2 separate regions of the Homo sapiens genome follow, and region 1 is linked to region 2. A link means that fine-mapping ties the variant in region 2 to the expression of a gene that starts in the linked region. Tissue or cell type: whole blood. Region 2 holds a variant in brackets; the other region holds the start of a gene. All regions are shown on one strand. Distances are between the middles of the regions. Region 1 holds the start of H4C4 (H4 clustered histone 4). Region 2 has its middle 5.0 kb from the start of H3C3.

Region 1 (5,387 bases), 140 kb after region 2:
AAAAAAAAAAAGAAGAAGAAGAAGAAGAATATAGGTCTATTTCACTCAGCAAATGGTAACTCACTCCTGTTCAATGTATTATTTAGTATTATGTCTGCGATTCCTCTCTATCTTTAAATTTGGGATCTCTAGATCTCAGACCCTGAAATCCTAGACTTCTGGTTGTTGACAGGAATCCATGGAGCCCTGGGAGTTCCTTGAGTTTCTGAGAATAATGAGCCTCATAAAATGTCTATGTTCATATGTCTATTTTCAACAGATTCTCAAAGGAGTTTTTGATCCATCTATTACTACAAACTACTCTATTTTTTTTTTTTTTTTTTTTTTTTGATACAGAGTTTTGCTCTTGTTGCCCAGGCTGGAGTGCAATGGCACGATCTTGGCTCACCACAACCTCTGCCACCTGGGTTCAAGCGATTTTCCTGCCTCAGCCTCCTGAGTAACTGGGGTTACAGGGATGTGCCACTATGCCCAGCTAGTTTTTTATTTTTAGTAGAGACAGGGTTTCTCCATGTTGGTCAGGGTGTTCTCGAACTCCCAACCTCAGGTGATCCCCCTGCCTTGCCCTCCCAAAGTGCCAGGATTACAGGTGAGAGCCACAGTGCCCAGCAGAACCACTCTTGAAGGGAAGTCAGCCCATTGAAATATACAGGTTACCACTGCTGAAGACATATAGACTATCTAGTCTACCCATTGATAACTTTTTTTTTTTTTGAGATAGAGTCTCACTCTGTGACCCCAAAGTTGCTAGGACTACAAGCATGTGCCAGCATGCCCGGCTAATTTTTGTATTTTTATTAGAGACGAGGTTTCTCCGTGTTGGCCAGGCGGGTCTCAAACTCCTGACCTCAAGTGATCCACACACCTTGGCCTCCCAAAGAGCTGGGATTACAGGCGTGAGCCACGTGCCTTGCCTGATCTCTAACTTGTAATCAGCCCCACTCTGTTCTGTCTATAATGGAACCCAACAGAGGTGATACCAAGTCGACAGGCTCATTTGGCATCAGCTTTTCTGTAAAGAGCTTTCAGGTCAATGGAAGGACATTCCACAATACTAAATAAGTTTAGTAACAAAACTGAATTTTGTGTGATAAAGTTATGCTGCTTACAAAGAGACTCAACAATAAATAAGCTTAAAGACAGATATTTTTGTTTCATGGAACAAATCCATTGTGATTAGTCCAGCTTTGTGAAGCAGCTCTGCTCCTTGTGATCAATCAGGAAATTTCGTTCCTTCCAAGTCAATGTTCTGTCATCTCCTAGGGCCTGATGTTCTCTAATTGCTCAAAATGAAATCAATACCATTATACTTGGGGAAGAAGGTAACATGGAAGTTTCAAAGCCCAGACCTGGTAGTAACTTTTCTATGTGTCTCACCTGTGTTGGAAATAATGTAGCCACATGCTTACATCTGCTCCCAGAAAGACCAGGAAATGTTGTCTCTTGCTAGATAGCCACCTGTCCAGCTTTCTTTTTATTATGATAAAGTGAAAAAACTTTATTGGAAAAATAAGGGTTTACTCAATATTCTCCACAAATTAAAATCCATTTTGAGGACAGCGAATAATACAGTGGCATACTGATAGTCCTGCGATTGTAAGGACTGGAGTAACCCACTAGGGAATGGCTTACTTATTTTTGTCTCATTTCCTGAGGTGTAAAGGGAAAGAAGGTGGGAATTTAATCATGACAACCTCGGTTTTAAACACCCATTCATGCAACCACAGTAACCTGATCTATGATTTAAGGTAAAATGACTTCTGTTAATAATAAAGTCTAAGACTATTTAAGATAAAAGGACAACAAAAAAAGAACTCGTTCAACATACCTTTAAATTGGCCACGGGTACATAAATAAAAAGTCCTTTTAAATTCAACAATAGAAAATCAGTAGATCTGGATGGAAGGCAGCTCAGAGGAACAGAACCAAACAAGTTGGCCTCTCCCCATTCCACTAAAAAATGTTGAATCTTATGTACTTTCATGGTTGTTTCTCCCACGGTAATTACTACTTTCTTCTTTAAAGAATGTATTTGCCAGTCAAGTGCCTCCAACACACCTCCCATCCCCCCACACCAATAACCATCTGAATGCCATTTTGTCTTCCTTTCATATAACAATGCCTTGGTAGGAACTAGTAACTACCTCCATTTTTTTCACTATTCTTCACGGCAGCATCAGCCTTTACCACTTGCCTTCTGAGATACAGGTTTTGCTACCTTGTTTCTCCAGCAGCTACAGTCTTTGCTACCTTGTTTCTCTGATAGCCATGAAGAATGTTAGCAGCAGTTTGCCATGTTTCCTTACAGAAATACAGAAAACACAGGCCAAGCGTGGTGGCTCACGCCTGTAATCCCAGCACTTTCGGAGGCGGAGGAGGGAAATCTCTTTTGAGCTTGAGTTCAAGACCAGCCTGGGAAACATGGCGAAAACCCATCGCTGCAAAAAATACAAAGATTAGCCGGGTGTTGGTGGCGCAAGCCGGTTGCCCCAGCTACGCAAGAGGCTGAGGCACAAGAATCGTTTGAACCCGGGAGGCGGAGACTGCAGATTGCCGAGATCGCGCCATTGATTACTCCAGCATGGGCGACACAGCAAGAGTGAAAATAAACTTTAATACACTATCCTCACCGGCCAGTAAGATATGAAGCCAAGGCGTAATAAGACCATTTAACTTGAAAACCGGAGCTACTAAACACGTGAAACTACACTTTTAGCAGTGACTACTACTCTTTCTCCTGAGTGGATAGGTGGCCCTGAAAAGGGCCGTTGGTTTTGCGGTAGTGTACTGTAGAGGTAAGCTCAGCCGCCGAAGCCATAAAGAGTGCGTCCCTGGCGCTTGAGCGCGTACACCACGTCCATGGCTGTGACTGTCTTGCGTTTGGCGTGTTCCGTGTAGGTGACAGCATCGCGGATTACATTTTCCAGGAAAACTTTCAGCACTCCGCGAGTTTCCTCATAAATGAGGCCAGAAATACGCTTGACGCCGCCGCGGCGAGCCAGGCGGCGGATAGCGGGCTTGGTGATTCCTTGGATATTGTCACGCAATACCTTACGGTGACGCTTGGCGCCACCCTTACCTAGACCCTTTCCGCCCTTACCGCGGCCAGACATCTTGAAACCACAGCTGTTAAATCTGTAACGCAATACGTCTGGCAGAGCCACGCAGCACTTTTATAATAGCATGACGGACCTGTTTGAAAACCTCATGAGAAGGGGCGGGAACCACAGTCAGTTCCCGCCCTTCTGTGCAATTCTCCCTTGCTCAGACTGGAGGAGACCAAGAGGGGCCTGAGGCAACAAAAGAGCCTCAGCTGGGATTTAATAAATACTGCTAGGTATATATATATATATACACACACACTATACTTGCAGCCATTAACTGAGCCATCAGTTCATAAACTTTCGACAAAGAAGCCTGACAATTGTCCCCCACTTTTCCCAGAATATCAAATAATTAGTACTGTTTCCCTCACAGGGTGCTTTTTTTTTTTTTTTTTTTTTTTTTTTTTGAGACGGGTTCTTGCTCTGTTGCCCAGGCTGGAATGCAGTGGCACGATCTAGGCTCACTGCATCCTCTGCCTCCCGGATTCAAGCAATTCTCCTGCCTCAGCCTCCCGAGTAGCTGGGGTTACAGGCGCCCGCCACCATGCCCAGCTAATTTTGGTATTTTTTTAGTAGAGACGGGGTTTCACCATAGGCCAGGATGGTCTCGAACTCCTGACCTTGTGATCCACCTGCCTCGGCCTCCCAAAGTGCTAGGATTACAGGCGTGAGCCACCGCGCCGGGCCATAAGGTGCTTTCAAAGTATTTTAAGTAACTCATATCTTTATTGTCTCTGAGATTATTTTTATTGATTTATGCATTCCTAGTTAACCAAGCAGGGCTCTTTGGCATGCAGGCTAGATAGTGCTACTGAGGGAACTAAAAGTATATGAAAGTTACACATTTAGAGGTCAAATTAGGATAAGATCACCGAGGGCCGATTGAAAACATGACTATGTACACCCGTAAAAGAAAACCTTGTTGGGCTGAAATTTATGAAAATTTATGCTTTGATTGTGCCTTTAATCATGGACAGATTGTAGCTAGCACTGCATCATTCACCATATTCTATTACTCCAGCAAATTGGCATCATAGTATCCCTCCAAACTATCATAGAGACAGCCTGCTTGACATACATGCTGTGGGGGTGACCCTGGGCAAGCTATACTAAGTTTCCTTGTTGTAAATGTATTTTTAAAAATCTAACTTGTAAGTATTTGTTAAGTTGAAACAGATAATCCTATCAAAATGCTTAGAATAGTGTCTAGATTCCAAATAAGCAATGACTAAACATTAATTATGGTATAGTACAATATTGTGGGTGTTTTCAATTCCTATCCTTAAGGTTCACCCTTCTAAAGGGATGAGAGACAGTATTCTAATTTGCTAAAATCTGATTTCGAGAACTCCTCAAAATAATAAATAATTAAAAACTTAACTCATCATTAATCCCCATAAAAAGTTCCAGGTCCTTTGGGTGGAATATTTGGCTTTTCCTTCATGACTTGTGAGAAGAACCAAGTTTATCACAGCTGTTTGCTGTTTATTGAGTTTATGGTACATGGAAAAGATTGCAGAGTAAGGTTCTTAGCCTGGGATACATAGAAAGTCTTCAGGGGATCTGGGAATGAGTATAGAAAAAAAAAAAGTCAAATCTTTTTTTTTTCTTTTTACTATTCTCCAACAGAAACAGCATTTTTTCTGTGTATGAACTCAGGCAACAAACAGTGTAATTGGCAGGACAAGTGCTTCTATTTATATCACATTCTCATTGCCAATATCTCGAAATTTCATTTAAAAATCTCAATCCTAAAGCCGGGTGCAGTGGCTCACGCCTGTAATCCCAGCACTTTGGGAGGCAAAGGCGGGAGGATCACGAGGTCAGGAGATGGAGACAATCCTGGCTAACACAGTGAAACCCCATCTCTACTAAAAATACAAAAAAATTAGCCGGACATGGTGGCGGGCACCTGTAGTCCCAGCTACTCAGGAGGTTGAGACAGGAGAATGGCGTGAACCTGGGAGGTGGAACTTGCAGTGAGCAGAGATCGTGCCACTGCACTCCAGCCTGGGCAAAACAGCAAGACTCCATCTCAAAAAAAAAACAAAAAAACAAAAAAAAACCTCAATCCTTCAAAACTATAATAAGTCTTAGTCATATGGGTAGATTATTATTTAATGTATTAATTTAAAAAGGACATATGCCAGGCCATGGCTTATGCCTGTAACTCCCAGCTCTTTGAAAGGCCCAGATGGGAGGATCACTTGAGGCCAGGAGTTCCAGACCAGTCTAGCCAACATGGCAAAACCATGTCTCTACTAAAAATGCAAAAATTTATCA
Region 2 (5,387 bases):
GAGGATTGAGTGAAAATAGCAGCCTGAACCATCCGTGATTAAAGTACCTTAATACTGCAAATTTTAAAATCAGAGAGAGAGAGAGAGACAAACTAACACATTTGTAGGGCCCCTCTCTGCACCTTGGAAGTACAGGCCCTTACACTTGTGTTTCATTAGCTTCAGGATAAATCTGCCCCAGATCACTGGCCAAATTTTACGTGGCCTTCTTCAGCATCCTACCACTCTATTCAAATACATCTCTGCAGGAGCACCCTGTGAGTTGAGAATTACTGGTCTGGGATGACCACTGTTTGCATGATGCTTTGGATGGTGGTGCTGTTCTCAGAAGAAATACCAGAAGGAGAAAGGTTAGTCAGGAGAATATAAAGTCAACCTTAAGCAATTTGAACACTTCAGTGGTTAAGTGAGTTCCCTGGGACAACTCTGCAAGCTGTTTTAACTTTATTTGTATTGAATATTACCTTCTTTTAGAGAGGCCAACGTGTAGAAGGAAATAACAATGAAACAAAGGATTCATTAATAGTATAAACTATAAACTAACTGTCATTGATAGTCTTCCACGGGCCAAGTACCACATGAAGTGGTTGGTCTGAATTATTGTGTAAAATTCTTACTTCAGCATTGTAAGGCAAATTATCTCACTGTCTCCATTTTACAGAAGTGGAGGTTCAGCCTCAGGAATTTCACTAAATTCGCCAAATTCTTACTACCAGCAGATATCATTGCCAGGCAGTGTCACACTTTAATATCTTCTAATCAATAAGATAACCCTAAAATTGATTATCATATATAATTTCCTTCTCATATATAGTTTCATACTATCATATATAGTTTCCTTTGTTTCAGAAATTGGACTCCCTCAGGGTGGATAAGGAGACATGGTGGTGTCCTGGCCTAAGTATTGTTGGAATCCTCTAGTCAGAGGCCTGATGTGAGGTGAAGTGGACAGTGAAACTGCCTTTGCAAAAATCATAACTGAGAAAATTATTACAGTGAAAGAGATCTTACCTAACCGACTCCATCTAACGTCTAAACTCCAAGCTGTCCTTTTCATTCCTGAGTTTGGGATTAACTAACTTTGGGAGGAGCTTAGTTTATACTTTTGCTTTTAAACAAAAACAATAACAGCCCTTTCAGAAACAAACCCCTTTCCTGCCTGGGGACCAGACTGCTTTTGCAGGACTAACAAATTAGCCACAAGATTATAAATTATGGTTTAGGAGTCATGCAGCTGGAAGCTACAAGATTCTAAACCTCAAATTGCTCCTGGGGATAAAATCACTATTTTAAAACCTAAGATCAATGCTTGAGCTATTTTGCAGACCCTGAACACAATGGATTAGCTGGCACCACCCATATAGATAAACTGGATTATCTGGTCTTGAGTCCCCCACCCCACCACTCCCAGGAACTGATTTAGCACAAGAGGACAGCTTAGGCTCCCTATAATTTCATCTCTGACCCAACCAAGCAGCACTCCCGACTCACTGGTCCCCTACAATCAAATTATCCTTAAAAACTTTGGTCCCCAAATTCTCAAGGAGACTGATTTGAGTAATAATAAAACTCTAGTCTCCTGTAGCGCTGGCTCCTTATTGCAATTCCCCTGTCTTGATAAATCAGCTCTGTCTAGGAAGTGGACAAGGAGAGCCCGTTGGGTGGTTACAATAGGACAAACCAATAAAATATAAAGTATTAGAGACACTACCTGGGTTTCAGGAACAGGTCAGAAAAAGTGTTTTCTTGGAAAACATCTGGATTCTGCTGCAGAGCAAGTATTTGCTTGTGTCTTCCCAGAGTATAAAAGCTGTCCTGTCCAAGATAGTTGCCACTAACCATATGTGAGTATTAAGCATTGGAAATGTGGCTACTCCAAACTGTGATGTGCTTTAAGTGTAAAATACACACCAGATTTCAAAGAACTAGTAAAATAACAAAGTAAAAACTCAATATTTTAATATTAGATACCTTGTTGAAACAATTTTTGGTTACACTGGATTCAAATCATTAAAATAGATTTCTTTTTTCACTTTTTAAAATGTGCCTATTAAAAAATTTAAAATTACATATGTGGACCCTATGTTTCTGAGGAACAGTGCCAGGACATAGAGGATAGTTATATTCACTCACAGATCAAAAACTAGCAAAACTATGAAATACCTAATAATTTAATTTTTCACCTTAACTTTTGGCATATTCCACAGATCTGTAGTATATTTGAGTGTGATAGCTTAGGAATAAATATGATTGGAACTCATTCATGTTTAGAGAGAAAGGGTGTCAAATTGAGAACCAGGCAGATACACCTAATCTTAAAATGACCCCAAAGTAAAGTGGTTGAAGAAATTAAATCCCAAAGATTTTTGGTGAAGAATGTTGTAGTTTTCATCAGTATGTGTATGTTCAAATGGAGATTAAAGAAGGCAAAATAAGGCCGGGTGCAGTGGCTCACACCTGTAATCCCAGCACTTTGAGAGGCCAAGGCAGGCGGATCATGAGGTCAGGAGTTTGAGATCAGCCTGGCCAACATAGTGAAACCCTGTCTCTAATAAAAATACAAAAATTAGCCGAGCACGATGGCATGCGCCTGTGGTCCCAGCTACTAAGGAGGCTGAGGCAGGAGAATCACTTGAACCCGGGAGGCAGAGGTTGCAGCGAGCCGAGATCACGCCACTGCCCAGCAGCCTGGGTGACAGTGAGAGACTCCGTCTCAAAAAAAAAAAAAAAAAAAAGTCAAAATAAAAGAACTGTGGGCTGACAACTGTGGATTAAGCATCAGTTCTATTAAGAAGGGCTAACTTGAAGATGAATCTTTTGAAGATACATTTTGACTCCAGCTCTTTAGAGGAACAAAGTTTACCTTGATGTGAAATTCTTCAAATAAAAATTTATTGACTTTAAATTTAAAAAAAAAT[GCA/G]CACACACACACACACACACACACAGCTAACTAGCTACATCCTTAATGACACCAAGCTTTAGTCCTTCACCCTGAAGTGGGAATGACAATGGCACTTACTTCAAAGTGCTGTGACAAGAATGTGTTTGAAAATAAATATAGAGTAATCAGCAACAGTGCTTGGCATATTGTAAATAAGTGCTCAAAAAATGCTAGTTCCCAAAACTGTTGTTGCCACTGTACCCTAAATCCCTATTCTCTTCTGATATCCTTTAGTGATGTAATTCTGTCTTGCACTGGGCCTGTTCATCTCTGGTATGAATTTCAACCACAATGTCCTTACTACATTTCCCTCAGGCTTATATAGCCAAAATATCCAGAGCTTTGCCTAGGAGTGTATAATATGATACTTCAATTTGTAGCCATGATAGCACTGTGTATGAAAGTTTGGAATAATGCGCCGGGCATGGTGGCTCACGCCTGTAATCCTAGCACTTTGGGAGGCCGAGGTAGGTGGATCACTGAGGTCAGGAGTTCGAGACTAGCCTGGCAAACATGGCGAAACCCCGTCTCTACTAAAAATACAAAAAAATTAGCCGGGTTTGGTGTCAGGTGCCTGTAATCCCAGTTACTCAGGAGGCTGAGGCAGGAGAATTGCTTGAACCGGGGAAGTGGAGGCTGCAGTGAACCAAGATCACGCCATTGCACTCCAACCTGGGTGACAGAGAGAGACTATGTCTCAAAATAAATAAATAAATAAATAAAAAACAGAAAGTTTGGAATAATGCATTACAAGTAGCCTCTAGTTTTTATGTTACTCATAGTTTTATCACACAAGAACAATGTCATAAATTTTCATGGTTGAATTATCAGTTGTTTATGCAATATTCATTGATGTTTTTGGCTTATCAGCAGTGTTTCTGGAATTATTTGAATATTATTACCGTTTTTCAAAATTATTTTATAAAACTAATTTAAAAATCAAAAATGATATAATTACTAATGTGAAATTAAATATAAGTTTTGAAGAATATCAGGATGTCACCCCCAAATTATTCTACTTTGGCATAAAAGTTATTTTCAGCTGAAGGCAATTGAAAATCAACAGGTGTAGGAAGAGGTCTCTGTCTTCTCTTTACCCAAATTTCCCTTTGTGAAGGTGACAGAAATTTCCCTTGTAAAAGTGTCCCCAACTGCTATACCAGGAAAAAGAGAGCAATTCTTATCACTAGATATGGAAGGTTGGCACTGAGATGACTCTGCAAAAACAAACCTTACTACAATTATTTCTATCTTTCATTTTATCTTCCATGGTTTTTATTGCCCATGTATTTATTTCCTTGTCACATTCCCAAATTCGTCATCCCATGAAGTGCAAACTCCCTTTCCTTTGTTGGAATGGTGTATAAGTCTGTGAGTCTAACCGCGTTTTTAAGGTTTCAATTTTTTTTTCTTTGGGAACTCTGTGCATGTAATATACTAATAAAATTGCATGCTCTTTTTTTCGCATGTTAATCTGTCCTTTGTCAGTTAAATTTGCAAGACACTACTTAGTGAATCTAAGAGTACAGAAAAACATGTGTCCTCATTGACAGTTTCAAAAACTAAGTAAAATTGAGGCAAGAATCTTTTTCATCTTAAAATGGCCAATTTTAATTTCCAAATGAATGGTTCATTAGACCTAAGCCAGTAAGCTATGTGAACAATTGTGATGGAATAAAACAAAACTAAAGAGCATGAACAAAATTGAGAAAACATATGCAAGACTGAATCTAAAGGCCAAATAGAATTGAAAATTTTTCTAATTTTTAACTCTATAAATTAAAGGAATGTGTTTCATTTGACGAGTTTCATCTGTGGAAACATGTTTGCAGAAGACATTCGAGGTTAGGATTAATTGAAAGTACATAAATCAAATGGATTAAGACCCCAAAGGGCATTGAAGGAAAATTAGAAAATCAGCTATTTTTGCTTGGGTTGATTCCTCTCCTGACTAACTCTTGGAGATGATAAGAACATCAATTAAATGGGTAGCCATGAAAGTATCTAAGGGAGAAAGGAACACAGAAGTTCAATGTACCATAACTTTATTTTTATTTATTTAGTTTTTTGAGAGAGAGTCTGGCTCTGTCGCCCAGATGGAGTGCAGTGGCGTCATCTTAACTCACTGCAACCTCTGCCTCCTGGGTTCAAGTGATTCTCCTGTCTCAGCCTCCCGAGTAGCTAGGATTACAGGTGTGTGACACCACGCCCAGCTAATTTATTGTGTGTTTTCATGGCCAGGCTGTATTTTCATGGCCAGGCTGGTCCTGAACTCCTGACCTCAGGTAATCTGCCTGACTCAGCCTCCCAAAGTGCTGGAATTACAGGCGTGAGCCACTGCTTCCGGCTTTTTTTTTTTATGACGGAGTCTCGCTGTGTCACCCAGGCTGGAGTGCAAGGTCTCGCCTCACTGCAACCTCCGCCTCCCAGGTTCAAGCAATTCTCT

The links. PIP is the estimated chance that this variant, and not a neighbour inherited with it, causes the effect.
Region 1: H4C4 starts here. The variant in region 2 is the best candidate, but not a certain one, in a credible set for the expression of H4C4 in whole blood (INTERVAL, PIP 0.67).

The regions. Positions count from the first base shown.
Region 1 is chr6:26,185,964-26,191,350 of GRCh38, forward strand. H4C4 (H4 clustered histone 4) reads right to left here and starts at 3,149. Exons shown (of 1, transcript NM_003539.4): 1 at 2,747-3,149. The coding sequence starts at 3,113. The coding sequence ends at 2,802. RefSeq lists enhancers at 1,750-2,375, 3,158-3,337.
Region 2 is chr6:26,047,667-26,053,053 of GRCh38, forward strand. No RefSeq gene overlaps it. Among named protein-coding and RNA genes, the nearest start is that of H3C3, 5.0 kb to the left of the region's middle. The variant GCA/G (reference allele first, on the strand shown) is at 2,919.